Linked DNA regions of Homo sapiens. The protein of the gene in region 2 interacts with the protein of the main gene of each other region in a biochemical or structural test. Each region holds a gene or a part of one and is shown on either strand. Other genes may lie near its edges.

Evidence for each region. The genes of interacting proteins can lie anywhere in the genome.
Region 1: the proteins of TRIML1 (region 2) and USP5 form a complex in vitro, tested with the Homo sapiens proteins (one study listed by BioGRID).

Annotation. Positions count from the first base shown.
Region 1 is NC_000012.12:6,847,553-6,855,495, forward strand, and holds the start of USP5 (ubiquitin carboxyl-terminal hydrolase 5), read left to right. Parts: upstream 1-4,597; 5' UTR 4,598-4,627; coding exon 4,628-4,738; intron 4,739-7,802; exon of another isoform or gene 7,803-7,848; coding exon 7,849-7,943. Other genes in the region: CDCA3 (cell division cycle-associated protein 3), read right to left, coding at 1,491-1,646, 1,771-1,877, 2,013-2,306, 2,915-3,044, 3,281-3,400. UniProt on the Homo sapiens protein: Deubiquitinating enzyme that participates in a wide range of cellular processes by specifically cleaving isopeptide bonds between ubiquitin and substrate proteins or ubiquitin itself.
Region 2 is NC_000004.12:188,135,051-188,142,867, reverse strand, and holds the start of TRIML1 (probable E3 ubiquitin-protein ligase TRIML1), read right to left. Parts: upstream 3,428-7,817; 5' UTR 3,310-3,427; coding exon 2,902-3,309; intron 2,341-2,901; coding exon 2,245-2,340; intron 617-2,244; coding exon 386-616; intron 1-385.

The sequences.
Region 1 (7,943 bases), on a different chromosome or scaffold from region 2:
CAGCAGGTGGCTGGGGGACTGTGTGCAGCAGTTCGCTATGGCCTGCCTGTGGTGCCCATGTGTTTGTACGGGAGGGTTAGCTTGAGAAGGAATCAGATTATAAAAGGTCTTGAATGTCAAGCCAGAGAGTCCAGACTTTTTCCTAAGGGCAATGAGAAGCCATTGAGGAGTTCTGAGCAGAGTAGTAACATGATCAGTTATGCTTCTCAGAAAGATTGCTCCAGATCTTTCAGAAAGAAGCAGTGTAGGTTGATGAAAGGGAGGGACTGGCACTGGGGAAACAAGGTAGGAGGCAGGTGGCAAGAAATGCAAGAGCGACAGGACAGAGGGGTTAGGGAGAGGGATTAGGAAGAGATTAAAGATGTGGAATCAGCTGGAACAGTGGCTCATGCCTGTAATCGCAGAGCCTTGGAAGGCTGAGGCAGAAGGATCTCTTGAGGTCTGGAGTTTGAGACAAGCCTGAGCAACATAGTAAGACCCTGTATCTACAAAAAAAATTAAAAATTACCTGGGCAGGCTGGGCATGGTGGCTCATGCCTGTAATCCCAGCACTTCAGGAGGCTGAGGCAGGCAGATCACTTGAGCCTAGGAGTTTGAAACCAGCCTGGGCAATATGGCAAGACCTCATCTCTATAAAAAAAATACAAAAATTAGCCAGGCGTGGTGGCTCATGCCTATAATCCCAGCTACTGGAGAGGCTGAGACAGGAGAATCGCTTGAGCTCAGGAAGTTGAGGCTGCAGTGAGCTGTGATCGTGCCACTGCACTCCAGCCTGGGTGACAAGAGCAAGACCCTGCCTCTAAAAAACAAGCAAACAAACAAAATGTGGAATCACCAGGATTTAGTGACCAAATGCTAGGATATAGGACATTGGGAGGGAAGGATTCGAGATAATGGCCAAGGTTTGGGTTTGGTGGCTGGGTAGATAATGCTGTCATTCACAAGGATAGGGAAGAGGGAATGAGGAATAGCTTTTGGGGGAAGATCATAAATTCAGTTTTAGACAAACTGACTTTGAAGTACTTATAAAGCAGCTGGATAAAGGTCAGGGTTAGAGAGAGAGACCTGAAAGTTACCAGAATATAGGGAAGTGATAGCTAAAGCCCTAGAAGTAAACACCCAGGGAGAGCAGGGCCAAGGACAGAGCCATAGGGACACCATGGTTAAAGGGAGATGTGCAAAGAAGGCTCAGAGCATCAGTGGGCTCAGGCCAGGGAACGCAAGCTCTCTAGGCCGCCATTCTACACACAGAAAACTCGGTGCAAGGTTTACATATACCTTTTTAAAGTAACATTTAAAATTACTTCCTTTAATATAAAAGAAACACACAAGACACAAAGAAAGCCCAATAAAGCTGTGAGTCCCAGTTTGGTAGCTGAGGAGGAGTCTAAGAAAACAAGCCATTCCTCAGTATCCCTGGGAAAGAAGGGGTGAGAGGACACAGATATCACCAGGCCCTGGGTGACTGCATTGCTGGGGCCATGCAGGGCCTAGCTCTCCACCAAGGGAAAGTGCTGATTTTCCTTGTCATGGTCCTGGCCTTGCTCCCATGCTCGTCCTCCAGTTTTCAGAAGTCGTCCAGTTCCAAGAATGGCTCCTTCCTTTAGTTCACTAACATTTTCACTTAGGGGTGAAGGCCGCTTACCCTGAAAACGGCAGTGTATGAGTTGGGGGGAGTTGCTGTTCAGAAGAGGGAAGATCTGGGTAAAAGGGTCTCCCACCCTCTACGTTGGATATCCTAGTAACAGCTTGCACTTTCTCTTCCTTTACCTGTCGTAGTGTCAGGGTGCCAGGGGAGTTGTCATCCTGCAGGATGGTGAGGGGGGATCTCCCTAGTACCTTGCTGCTGTTTGGTTTCCATCTATTGCGCATAGAACCTGGGGTGGGTAAGGCGTTAAAGCAAGGACCCAAAACTAGGACTTACAGTTTATTCCTCCCACACTCACCCATGGACCTTATCCCAAAACATTATCCTAGTTTATCTTCCCTGCATCTTGCCTTAGATTCTGTACCTGAAGATCTGGGAGTCTCAGGGTCCCTTGAGGGCTTGTCGGAGCTCTGGCTGGCCACAGGGGTTTCTGTGGGCTGTCTTGCTTCCTCCTTGGAAAACACCTGTTTGGAGGGGAACTCAGTCTGGTTCCAAGGTGGCATCTGTTCCTCAACAGATAACTGGGTACCCAGAGGCAAGTCCAATTCAGAAGATAAAGGTGCCTCTGGGGGCAGAACAGGCTCTGGGGGAAGATTTGATTTAGAGTCTTCAGTTTCAAATACTTCACTCAGCTGTTTCACCAGTGGGCTTGGGGGGTCTAGAGGAAGAAAGTGAAGTGAACAGTGACCTTCTGATACACAACATTCAGCAAGGAGCAAAACATACAGAAACCCAGGACTCATGCCCAGGAGGGTGAGCAAGTGGGAAGAGAGAAATCAAGGAAATCAAGGTGAAAGGGAGCAATTTTTTTTTTTTTTGAGATGGGGCTTGCTCTGTCCCCCAGGCTGGAGTGCAGTGGCGTGATCACAGTTCACTGCAGCCTTGACCTTGTGGGCTCAAGCAATCCTCCCACTTCAGCCTCCTGAGTAGCTGGGATCACAGGCCCATGCCACCGTGCTTTTGTGTGTGTGTGTGTGTGTTATGTGTGTGTATTTTTTCTAGAGATGGGGTTTTGCCATGTTGCCTAGGCTGGTCTTGAACTCCTGGGCTCAAGCGATCTGACCACCCCGGCCTTCCAACGTGCTGGGATTACAGGCATGAGCCACCGCACCCAGGCTGGGAACAAAATATTGAGATAAGAGTGAGATGGGTCCGAAGCAGGAGGATAGAGGCCCCTTTAAGGAACCCTGAGAGAATGGCTTCATGGACCCTACCCAAGAATAATAGATGACAGCTTCATCAGCATTCCCTGGGCCCAACGCTTACCTCCACTGCTGGTCTTCATAGGTGTCCGTGCAATACCAAGAGTAGGAGAGCGGGGATCTGAGTCCTGGGCATGTTTAAGACCCTCCAGTTGCTCCCCTGCTGGTAGGCCTGGCTGTGGAGAGCTCTCCACCTGTCAAGACCATAGGCTAGAACAAGTCTGGGCCCTGACTCTTCTCTCCTCTCCTCCCCATATTCCAGGAAGGAATTGCCAAGGCCCTCAGATATCCAGCCTACCCCACACAGATTGAGATTGCAGAAAATAAGGCTAGGATAAGGGTGGGGTCATGACGGCTCTCTCAAAATCAGGTTAGGAAGAGACCCAAGAATTCAGACATTCTCTGCCTTTCCCACGCTGGCCCAGAGTACCTGGATGGGAGTGCGCAGGATGCCAGCACTAGGTGAACGGGGGTCCGCCACTCGAGCCAGATGCTTGTTGTGCGGCGGAGGCCGCGCTGGTGTGACTGGGACGCTCTTGGCTGAGCCCATCTCAACCAGGAGTTGCAGGGTGGGGGCAAGGGCCAGCCCGGGACGAGGAGGGAATGCCTGTGAGAAGTGACTCAGGTCTCAGCCCTTATCTCTTCCACGTCGGACCTTCAACCCTAAACCACCCTGTCTTCCCAGTTTCCAGTGAAGAAACTTCCTGGCGAGGGACCAGAGGCCTCTGCGGAGTTAATGACTGCTGCAGCTGACAAAATGGCTCGTTCTGGGCCTGCTGAGCCCTCTAACTTATTTATTAAATTATTCAAATCACTTACCGGGCCCCAATTCCACCTCTGGATGCACAACAGCTCGTGGCTCAACTCCCGAAGTTACCAGTTTCAAACTTCCCGCCACGCCCCCTGCCCTGACCCTATTGGCTGAGCCGACGTAGTTCCCATAGGCCCTCCACGTAAGACCCGCCTCGAGCCAAAGGAAGCTGTTGGTCTGGGAGAACGTCTATCATGGTGACTGTAGGTGTCAATGGACTGATGCTAGGCTTGCCCAGGGGTGACGCCTCCTTGATAAGGGTACTTCTGTTCAGTATCGGCCTGCGAGCCGTCCGTGGCAGGCTGAGGAGTGCCAGTCTTCGCTTTCGAGACGTCTAGTCTCAAGAACGAATTATTAAACAAAATAGAATCATGAGTGATTACACTATTATGCGCACATCCAGCTGGAGTTGTGATGGTTTTCCTGAGGCGAGCGATAGTAGCTTTATTGGTTGACAGCTGTATCAGTCACTCGACACAACCCCCTCAAGCTCCGCCTCACTGGATACCCCCTTTACAAATACCAAGACAACTGTCCCTCGACTTTCCGACCGGACAGGTCCCCAGGAAACTTTCTGGAATTGAGAGGCCTAAAACAACCGTCAGTTCCTGCTCTTCAATAGAAGGCACGCGAATGGACTCTAAGGGTCCCGGAGCCGGAGCAGCTGCGGAGCCGCAGCAGCTGCAACCCCGAAGCCCACCTAGCTGCTCTACGTGCGCTCCCGCCCTGGAGGAGTGGGATTGGTTCTTTCAACCATCAATTGCCTTAGGAGCGCTTCTCATTGGCGTCAGTCAAGCGCGGGGCAGGGGCGGAGCACCGGCAGGCAGGCTCCGTCCAACTGCCATTCTCGCGCGTCGTCTCCGCGGCGCATGCCCCTAACGAGTGGCGCTCATTGGACGGGAGGGGCAGGGGAGGGGACTGGGAACGGTGGGAGCCGCCGTGTGTGGAGAAGCTGCTGCCGGTGTCATGGCGGAGCTGAGTGAGGAGGCGCTGCTGTCAGTATTACCGACGATCCGGGTCCCTAAGGCTGGAGACCGGGTCCACAAAGACGAGTGCGCCTTCTCCTTCGACACGCCGGTAAGCCCATTCCCCACGCCCGCAACGAGCACGACTTCCTTCCATCGCCCTGGTCATTCCGCTGGGGCCTGCAAGGCTTGGGCTACCGCCTCCCTGCGATGCACCATGGGACTTGTAGTCTCCCACGCTCCACTCTGCCGTTGCCTTTCATTAACTGCGGCTGTCGTGTGACTACCGTCCCCGGAAGCCGCCGCGCTCACCTCTCCGGCTCCCCGCTTCGTGGAGCACTGTGGGCATTGTAGTCACTCACTGCCTTCGTTGCCGTTCTAAGCTAGGGGCGCAGCCCGACCGTCGGACTACATCCCCCAAGTGGACCCTTGAGAAAACCTGGCAGTCGGCCTTGTCTGCCGCGCACGGCTCTCCGGGTTTTGTAGTCTCGTGTAGGAGTGATGGGGACGACTCCCCACTGTTCTCGGCCGGGGTTGGAGTTGGGGGGTGGGGACCGCAGTTCCTAGGCGGTTAATAGTCTGGGAGTGGACTCTCAAGAAGTCCGATTCTGAGAAAGGCAGAGAGCCTCCACCCCGTGGTTAAAACAGACAGGGGGCGGGGAGGGGAGGAAAGAGGAGAGGAAAGCTCTAGTCGTTTCTCCTTTGAAGTGAGCAATGGCCGCAGCCCCCACCCTTCCCCCCGCCCCCCAGCCTATCACAGACAGCTGAGATAACCCCTTTTAAAGTATTCCTAGAGAGGTGGTTTCTTTCTCGGAGGATGCTAAGGCCTCTTTCCCATCCCGCTCCCACTCTTGGCTAGTTACACAAAGCCACCTCCCACACCATGCTTCACGTTTTGCAGGCTCCACCTGGTACCTCCCTTCCTGCAGTTCTGCCTTCCCTATGTCACCCTCAAGCGGAGGCCCTTTGGGGCCTGAACTGAGAAGGCAGCAGCTTGGTTGGGATCCGCCCCCCTCACCACCCCTCCCCTCAAGCTGCTGTGCCCTGCCCAGTGTATTCTGCCAGAACCAGCTCATGGCCTGAAAACTGCAAGTCAGAGTGGAAAGCCTTCATTACTGCATCACCAGTACTGAGTAGAACAGCATGATGTGAGGCCCAGTTCAGGATCATCACTGTGATTTGTGGTTTGCTTGGTTTGCTAGGCTTTGATCTGGGCCTCAGACAATGTGCTGCTTCTCTGAAGTCTGGCTTTGGCAGAGGTAAAAGAGCACTGCGCGGAGCAGAGCTCCGGGGTTCCCAATCCTTGGTGAAATCAGCATCTTTAATTTCCAACAGAGGAGTTTAATCACTTCAGAGCTCCCACATTCTTCCCAGGAGGGAAAGGTTTTTCTTAAATTACCAGCAGGTGGTAGAAGTCAGTGGGTCCCTCTTTACACTTTTATTCACTCCTGTCTCTCTCCTTAGTAACTGCTTTGAATAATCCAAAAAGGGTTTTTGTAATCTTCTGAAACTTTCCCTTTTTCACCCCAAGTCAAGAGATTTTCAGTGTGCCCTAGTTCTTTGCTAACCAACTTCCAGCATATTTGGTTACCTTCAAATTGGGCTCATGGTAGAAAGAGCTTAGTTGACCTCCCCGGTGAGAAATGCTCTATTTGTTCATGAACTTGCAGTACACACTGTTCCTAGGAAGTGGTACAGAGCAATCTATGGGACCAAGAACTACCTTAGACAGTGCACTATTTTTCATATCACAGCAGAGAAATGTTCAAGGCCACTGAGACTTTTATTCCTGGAAGAGGATGTCTGTTGTTGCTCAAAGCCTTGGATCTGAGGGAAGACCCTTATTGTCTCCAATTTCCTCCTCCACCTTCTCCATCACTCTTTACAAAGGCACTGGAAAACTTGGTCAGCTTTGGGGGAAGCCCATCCTCCCTTCTCAGCTGTGTTTCTGGGTGGACACCCGTCTGTCCCTGTTTTCACGGGTTATGTGTGTTCTAGCTATCTCAGCAAGTGTTGCGAGATTGTTGTCAGAACGGGATGGCTTTGAGATTGGTGATTTGTTGGGACTTCAGCAGGGATCTTATTGGTCGGAGGGGAGGCAGAGGAGAGAGGGTGGTGGCTATGGAATGCTGGACTTCATGACCCTGCCAGACTGGGTGCATGTTTAGCTGTGAGTCCCTAACAAGTCATTGTTCCCCTGGAAGCCACACTTCAGCAGGAGAGGAGGGAGAAGACTCACAGTGTGGACCAGGGTTCGACTACCTGGTAGAATGTGGTAAAAGAAAGGTCTTTTTCGCTGGATGTTTAGTCTCACCGCTGTAATCCCAGCACTTTGGGAGGCCAAGGTGGAAGGATTGTTTGAGGCCACACAAGTTAAAGACCAGCCTAAGCAACATAGCGAGACCCCACCTCTAAAAAAAAAAAAAAAAAAAATCTAGGCATGGTGGCATGTGCCTGTAGTCCCAGCTCCTTTGGAGACTGAGGCAGAAGGATCACTTGAGCCGGGGAGGTTGAGGCTGCAGTGAGCTATGATCGTGCCACTGCACTCCAGCCTGGGTGACAGAGTGCAGTGTCTCTAAAATAAAATTTTTTTTTTTTTTAAAGGAAAGGTAATTTTGCTTGCTGGCACACTCGGGTCAGATATACTGTTCAAGTGCTGGAATCTCTGCTCCTCTGGTCTGGAAGGTTTTCTGAATCATGGAGATGAGATAGGGTTTGTCTTAGGTGTCCCCTGGTTTGGGTTCAGTGTCTCACATGAAAGTCTTTCCTCTCCCACGAAGGGACCCTTTTTCCCTTTGAATGTAATCTCCAGCACTGGAAGTCCACAGTATTTGATCCCCATTTACTTTCTGGATCTGTTAGCCCCAGGATAGAGGTGAAGGAAGTCCTCTGTGATTGATTAAAGAGCTCCAAAGCCCAAGAAGGAGCAGGTGGAAAGATAAATGGTGACTGGTGTTGCTGTTGAATGGCGACGATGAGCTGGTGTTCCTCAGCCCCCTGATGTCCTTGTTGGTTGTTATCAAAGTCATGGGAGGAAATGGGGAGAATCTTAGCTATGTCCCAGGTCCTAAAAGGCTAAATAACTTGCCAAGGGCCACACAGTGTTAGAGAACAGAACATTTCTTCTGGAACCCAGCAGTTTCTGACTCCAGGTTTTGGTTTCCTCACCTGACCAGGCTTCATAACATCCTCGTGTTTTCACCCTTACCTCTTGTCCCACAGGAGTCTGAGGGGGGCCTCTACATCTGTATGAACACGTTTCTGGGCTTTGGGAAACAGTATGTGGAGAGACATTTCAATAAGACCGGCCAGCGAGT
Region 2 (7,817 bases):
CTAGAGTTCATATCATAATGGTACTTATCTTCATCAGGTCTTTGTGAAGATTAAATTTAATGTGCCCAGCACATAGTAAATACACATTAATAAACTAGAAAAAAAAATTAACAAAGCTGAGGTTGCAGAGAGGCAGGTACAGAAGAAATTGAAGCCACTCTCAGGCTTGTTTGGGATAGTTATTCCTCTGGATGTGTTTTTTTTTTTCTCTCTCTCTCTCTTCTATAAGGCTTTATTGACATATAGAATGTCAATTCTTTAGGAAAACTACTTTTGGACCAGAACTTAGTTTTTAAGATGAATAAAGAAAACATTATTTCCTATGGCTTGAAGTACTATGAGTTACTATAATTTTTCCCATTACTCTCATGAATGTTATTCTCACCTCAAGAGATTCGAAAGCCGAGCTTTGACTTGAGGACTCAATCTGTGCGATCATTTTGCTTAGGCTTCTGATTTGCTGGGTCAGTTTGATCTCATTGTTCCTCAGCTTCCTCATGTTCTCTTTCTCTTCCTGTTCTAGTAGCTGGAGTTGCAGCTGCTCCTCTTCCTTCAGGAACTGGTGCATTTTCATGTATTCTGACACAACAACCTGTTTACAAGTCTTTGTTTCTTCCTGCCAAAACACACACACACACACACACACACACACACACACACGAGATAAAGTTAGTAAGAGAAATGCCCTTGTCTGTAGATTTTTAATCCTTACAAGTCCTAGAGTTTCTTTCTTTCTTTTTTTTTTTTTTTTTGAGATGGAGTCTCACTCTGTCGCCAGTCTGAAGTGCAGTGGCGCAATCTCGGCTCACTGCAACCTCTGCCTCCTGAGTTCAAATGATTCTCCTGCCTCAGCCTCCTGAGTAGCTGGGACTATAGTCTAGGAGTGTGCCACCACGCCCAGCTAATTTTTGTATTTTTAGTAAAGATGGGGTTTCACCATGTTGGTCAGGATTGTCTCAAGTCTCTTGACCGGGTGACCCACCCTCCTCAGCCTCCCAAAGTGCTGGGATTACAGGTGTGGGCCACCATGCCTGGCCAAGTCCTAGAGTTTCATGGCAACAATTCCTGAAATCCAACATATAATACATTTAATCTGTTGATGCGCTGGGTGTAGAGGTTGATGTTTTCGGAGGTATGTGCGCTATAGATACAATAGTAAACAAAACCAAAATCTCCATTCCCAGGAGGCGGTCGTTCTAGTGGAGAAAACCAAAAATGAGTAAGAAATATGACAAGTAGTGATCAGGACTATGATACAAATAAAACAAAATTAAGAAAAATTATGAAAAATGTGTGTTCATTTATTCAACAAATATTTATTCAATGAAAGTAGGTGTCAGATAACCAAAAAGGAACAGAAACATACATGGCAAATACTCTCACTTAAGAATTCAAAGTCTACGGCCAAGCACGGTGGCTCACACCTGTAATCCCAGCACTTTGGGAGACCGAGACAGGTGGATTACCTGAGGTCGGGAGTTCGAGATCAGCCTGGCTAACATGGTAAAACCCCATCTCCACAAATATACAAAATTAGCTGGGCATGGTGGCACACGTCTGTAATCCCAGCTACTCAGAAGGCTGAGGCAGGAGAATCACTTGAACCCGGGAGGTGGAGGTTGCAGTGAGCCGGGATCGCGCCACTGCACTCCAGCCTGGGCGACAGAGAGAGACTCCATCTCCAAAAAAAAAAAAAAAAAAACAGATTTCAAAGTCTATTGGGAGAATCAGATACATGGTTTTAAAAAATATATAATTTGATATTTAGTCCTTTGCTTTGACTGCTGGAGAGCTCAAATCCAAGTCCGTGACCAACCTTGAGGACTTGTCAGGTATCATTTAAACCACTATTTTGCTTTTATATCTCTGTCTCTTTATTTTTTTTAATTTGCATTTTCCCCTCCATGTTTTTGAGATATTTCTTTTTAAAATCGCTTTCCGTCTCATGTTACATGTCTATAAGTATCACTTGTGTTTTAAATAATTCTACCAGAGCCATCATAGAGGAAGCCACAGCGTTGTCTAGTTATGCAAAGGAGGCTCCTAGAGGGGGCGAATTGCAGCTGAGCCTTGAGACTCCCACGAGGACGCTCAGAAGAAGGCAGCCCAATGCAAGGAAACTGCATATTTTAGAGGTGAGACTGGAAAAATTTGTCTTTTTTTTTTCCTGATATTTCACTAAATTTCCCTTTAGTCCCCCTTATGGGGTCATATACAAGCAGCAAAAGTCAGACAGACACCGACCTGGCACAGTTTCACTCTCTCCTTCTCATGGGTTAGTACAGCCTGAGCTTCCTTTCTCCTTACACGCAAAAGATTCAGGATTTCCTGGAGTTTCTCCTGCAATAGAAACAAACCCTTTCTGGCAAATGAGCAGAGTCCCAGGTCATGAAGGGGCTTTGAAGACCAGTAACTGCGCAGTCCTAGGCCTCTAAAACAAAGGGCAGGCTGGGTGCGGCGCCTCACGCCTGTAATCCCAGCACTTTGGGAGGCCGAGGCAGGCGGATCACCTGAGGTCAGGAGTTCAAGACCAGCCTGGCCAACATGGTGAAACCCCGTCTCTATTAAAAATACAAAAAATTAGCCGGGCGTGGTGGTGGGTGACTGTAGTCCCAGCTACTGGGGAGGCTGAGGCAGGAGAATGGCGTGAACCTGGGAGGCGGAGGTTGCAGTGACTGAGATCGCACTGCTGCACTCCAGCCTGGGCAACAGAGCAAAACTCTGTCTCAAAAACAAAAAAAGGGAAAAAAAAGGGTGTAAACTGGACCCACGCCAGTTTGTGATGTGGTGCTCAGATGGGCCCTCGTGACTGTCCCCCACAGAGGACGTTAGGAAACGTCAGGAAAGCTAACGGAGTTAGCTGCGATGAGTCGTGGGGTTCATGCTGAGCAGCTGTCTTACTCTGTGATGCTCCTCAGCCTCGCTGGAGAGATGCACTCTGTTTGCACCATGGCTCTGGGCTACGAAGGCGCTTCCACCCTGCTCGTCATCGGAGAGCGCCTTGGCAGTGGTGGGCATCCTCCCGTAGCTGCCCTGCTCATCCTCGCTCTGCAGCACCTGGGACCGGAGCTGCCTGGCGATGCTGGCCAGCCTCCCCAGACGCTCGTTTGACTGGAAATGCGGGCCCTCCAAGGTCCTCCAGCACTCAGGACAAGATAAAGGTGTGTTATGTTCCTCCCAGCTCCTGAGGAGACACACCAGACAAAAGCTGTGCCCACACTCGGTGGTCACTGGGCTGCTGAAATAGTCTAAGCAGATGAAACAGGTGAGTTCCTCCCTGAGGTTCTCCATCAGATCTGCTGTAGACATTTTCTCGAGGCTGGATATGCAGCCAGGTTACACCTCTGTTCTGGGATTAGCAAAGCCCTCACTGCCGTCCTACAGTTTTGAGTAACACGCGGGTGACCTGTTCCTATGTTGTTATGACAAGAAACCCTTATCTCTTCTGTGCCTGATTTCACCAGCTGACATACACTGTCCAACACAAAGCCAATTATGACTTAATGTGGAACTCCTGTATACTGGGCTCCTCACCAACCCCAAACTTTGAGACTTATCTCTGTGAAAAGCACACATGCTAGAGGCTGAGGATTCTGGCTTCTAACAGGATTACCATTTTGAGAACTGGTTATTGTACATAAACAGCACTGTGGAACCATGTGAGCATGTGGGTTTTAGGCTGGAAGCTTGGGTGATTTGGTGTAAACCAGTAAAGAGATTTGAGTTTTGATGATCTCTAATAATATCTGAATTGGAAATTTGGTCCAAATCTTTTGGGAACTCCACTAATAAAACCTAGTTGAGAACTGAGAGAAGAAAACTGTAATACATAGTCCTTTTCTCATTAGCCCCTTTTGTTCTGCTTGACCAAAGCCTAAGCTTTTGTTCCTTTATTGGGTACTGTGTACTTTTATTTAATTTTATTCATCCCAACAAAATGAGAGCTCTTCCACTGAAGTATTCCTTGGTGTTAGGCGCACGATGAATTGCCAGAGCTGTTTATTGATCTTCCCTGCACACCCTAGTACTCACCCATCTGCCATCTTGGAAAGCATCTAAAATGACATTCTAATTGGAAGTTGCCTCAAGAGGCTATCCCACTATGGAGCAGATGGAAAGAATTATATTTTAGTATAAATGTAATTTTGCTCACTTATTTTCACCCATTGAAAATTTCCAAACTAGGCCCCTTCAAATCCCTGATTATCAGTTCTTACTGGACAGAAATGAAGTGTGCAGACATTTTTTCGGACATATGAAAAAGTAAATGCCTAGTGTGGAGACTGTGCACAGTGAACTCCGAGATTGGTAACAAATGCCACAAATTCACTGTGTCCCCTGCTCGGGAGTCAGCTCCTGTCCTGGCCTGCCTTCTGCTCACTGCATGCCAGGAAGTTGCACCTCAAAAGCTCTTCCTCAAAGGCCAGCGAGTTTGACCTTCCCACGAACTCATCACGCCATATTTCTGTCTCCGTCCCCTCACTCTCCAGCTTGGCAGCCTTCCACGAGTCGGGTCCATTACTCAGGCTGTTCCGTTCATTGGTTTCTGACTTTCAAGGCTCCAACTGCTACTTCTTTCCCACTTACCTCCAACAGGATGTTGGATGTTTTCTTATCTTGAACTTTGGGAAAAAGAAGTTTTCTGGCTGAGAATGTTTTTTCCTCCACCTTCCTTTCTCCTAGTCAAAACTCACCTTTCTGAAATCATTAATTCAAAATGTTTCAATCCTATACATCCCTTGTAAAGCATACGTGAATTGCTAGGATGAGAATTTAAGCTATGAAAAAATAAGAGCAAAGAGTTATACTACTGTAAAGAGGAAGAGAGGTGGCATCAGGGTGGCATCATGAAACCTCTACCAAGATAGCCTCCAGGATACTAACTTGTCACAGCTTCAGAATATTGCTATGAGTTAGTCTTGTAAGAGTCTTAAAAAAAAAAAGAAAAAAAGTTTGGCCAGGCGCGGTTGCTCACATCTGTAATCCCAGCAGTTTGGGAGGCCGAGGTGGGTGGATCACTTGAGGTCAGGAGTTTAAGACCAGCCTGGCCAACATGGTGAAACTCCGTCTCTACTAAAAATATGAAAATTAGGCCGGGTGCAGTGGTTCATGCCTGTAATCCCAGCACTTTGGGAGGCTGAGGCAGGCAGATCACTTGAGGTCGGGAGTTCGAGACCAGCCTGGCCAACATGGAGAAACTCCGTCTCTACTAAAAATACAAAATTAGCCGGGCATGGTGGCACATGCCTGTAATCCCAGCTAGTCAGGAGGCTGAGACAGAAGAATTGCTTGAACCCAGGAGGTGGAGGTTGCAGTGAGGTGAGATCACGCCATTGCACTCCAGCCTGGGCAACAAAAGCGAAACTCTGTCTCAAAAAAAAAAAAAAAAAAAGTAAAAATAGCTGGGTGTGGTGTTGCACGCCTGTAATCCCAGCTACTTGGGAGGCTGAGGCAGGAGAATCACTTGAACCCAAGAGGTGGAGGTTGCAGTGAGCCAAGATCCCACCACTGCACTCCAGCTTGGGAGACAGAGAAAGATCCCATCTCAAAAAAAAAAAAAAAAAAAAAAAAAGACTACAATAACACTAACTGCCACCACTAGAAAAAGAATTTATGAACTACCATCTCCATTCAGTGTGTTATTTCAACACAACCCCAGGAGGAGTCTTTAACATTTACCAAAATCATTAGAATAAGCCTCACAATACAGTTATAGCACATCACAGAGCCAGTATTCCAATTTGGAATAGGGAGGCTGGCATAGTCTCTGTTCAAGTCACACTGATCTGCTCTATCCCGTTTCCCTCTTCCAGATAATTTTTTTTATTTTATAGGCATCGTAACACAATAACCACGTGTTATTCATTGATGACTACAAGAATTCTTTGCACGTGGCTCGATTTTTCTGTTAATGAGTTATAAATGAATAGAGGAACTATATTATTATGGAATCATAGTCTTATATTTAGCTGGAAGTCAAGAGATCATATAGTCCAACTACCTTCTACAGATGCTGAGGAAAACTGAGGCTAGAATAAATTAAATTCATCTCCTGATACTCACTTACCACATACGCCGGATTAGGACTAGGAAACTGGAGCGCCTACCTCCCAGTCTTTCTCTTTTGTCAACACACTATACTGCATCCACTTGTTGACTTGTGAGTGGGTGAAAATTTCCAGTTATCTCAATAAAATGAACATTGCAGGCCAGGCGCGGTGGCTCACACCTGTAATCCCAGCATTTTGGGAGGCCAAGGCAGGTGGATCACGAGGTCCGGAGATCTAGACCATCCTGGCTAACACGGTGAAACCCCATCTCTACTAAAAAAATACAAAAAATTAGCCGGATGTGGTGGTGGGAACCTGTAGTCCCAGCTACTAGGGAGACTAAGACAGGAGAATGGCGTGAACCCGGGAGGCGGAGCTTGCAGAGAGCCGAGATCGCTCCACTGCACTCCAGCCTGGGAGACAGAGCAAGACTCCATCTCAAAAAAAAAAATGAACATTGTCCAATTGCTGTGAGAAGGAAGTCAGACAGCTGTCATTATGGAGTGATGGTGTGACAGGCATCTGAAATCACTGACCACATTCACTCTTGGGAAGGCAGACTTCCTTACCATCTTTCTCAACATTTTGCTTGGGCTTAATTCATAGATGAAATGCATTCATAGAATAGACCAGCCTTCCCAAAATATATGACCCAATCACACTACCAGACACGGCTTCTGAGATCAACAACTCAAGTAGCTTCTTCTCTGGCCTTTCTCTCCTGAGAGGGTGATGCTAGGAGTACTCCAAGAGGGTCACTGTCACAACTATCACCCAGATGCCATCAGGGTTGGCACATGCAGAAAAAAATGAACTTTATAGATACAGTAAGGGCTTATTTGTTGATGAGGCGGTGGACTAGTTGGGAGCTTATTTGAAAAATACATTGCTTGAAAGCCTAGCTTTAAAAATAAAGTTAGCCAGGCCCAGTGGCTTACCCCAGTAATCCCAGCACTTTGGGAGGCCAAGGCAGGTGGATCACCTGAGGTCAGGAGTTCAAGACCAGCCTGGCCAATATGGTGAAACCCTGTCTCTACAAAAATACAAAAATTAGCCGGGCGTGATGGCGGGTGCCTGTAATCCCAGCTACTCGGCGCTGAGGCACGAGAATCACTTGAACCCAGGAGACGAAGCCAGCAGTGAGACATGATCACCGGTGCACTCCAGCCTGGGCACAGAGCGAGATTAAAAAAATACAATTGACCCTTGAGCAATGCAGGGGTTACAGGTGCTGACCCCTTGCACAGTCAAAAATACACTTTAACTTTCCTAGAACATTAACTACTAATAGTCTACTGTTGACCAAGCCTTATCAATAACAGAAACAGTCAATTAATATATTTTTTTGTTACATGTATTATTTTATTCTTATCAAATAAGCTAGAGAAAAGAAAATGTTATTACGAGAAAATCTATTCACTAAGTGAAAGCGGATCCTCATAAAGGTCTTCACCCTTGTCGTTACCACTTTGAGTAGGCTGAGGAGGAGGAGGTGGGGGTGGGAGGGCTGGTCTCGCTGTCTCAGGGGTGGCAGAGGCCAGATAGGTAGAGGAAGTGGAAGGCTGAGCAGGAGAGGCAGGCATTCTTGGTGTCACTTTTATTGAGAAAAATCCGTGTATAAGTGTCCATGTTGAGGAGTTCAAACCCAGGTTGTTCAAGGGTCCTCTGTATATCTGTCATTTCATGCCAGTCTGGAAAAGATAGGTTACTCAACACACAGTTTAGGGAAAGTCAGGGAGTCATCTGGAAAAATAAATTCAGTTGATC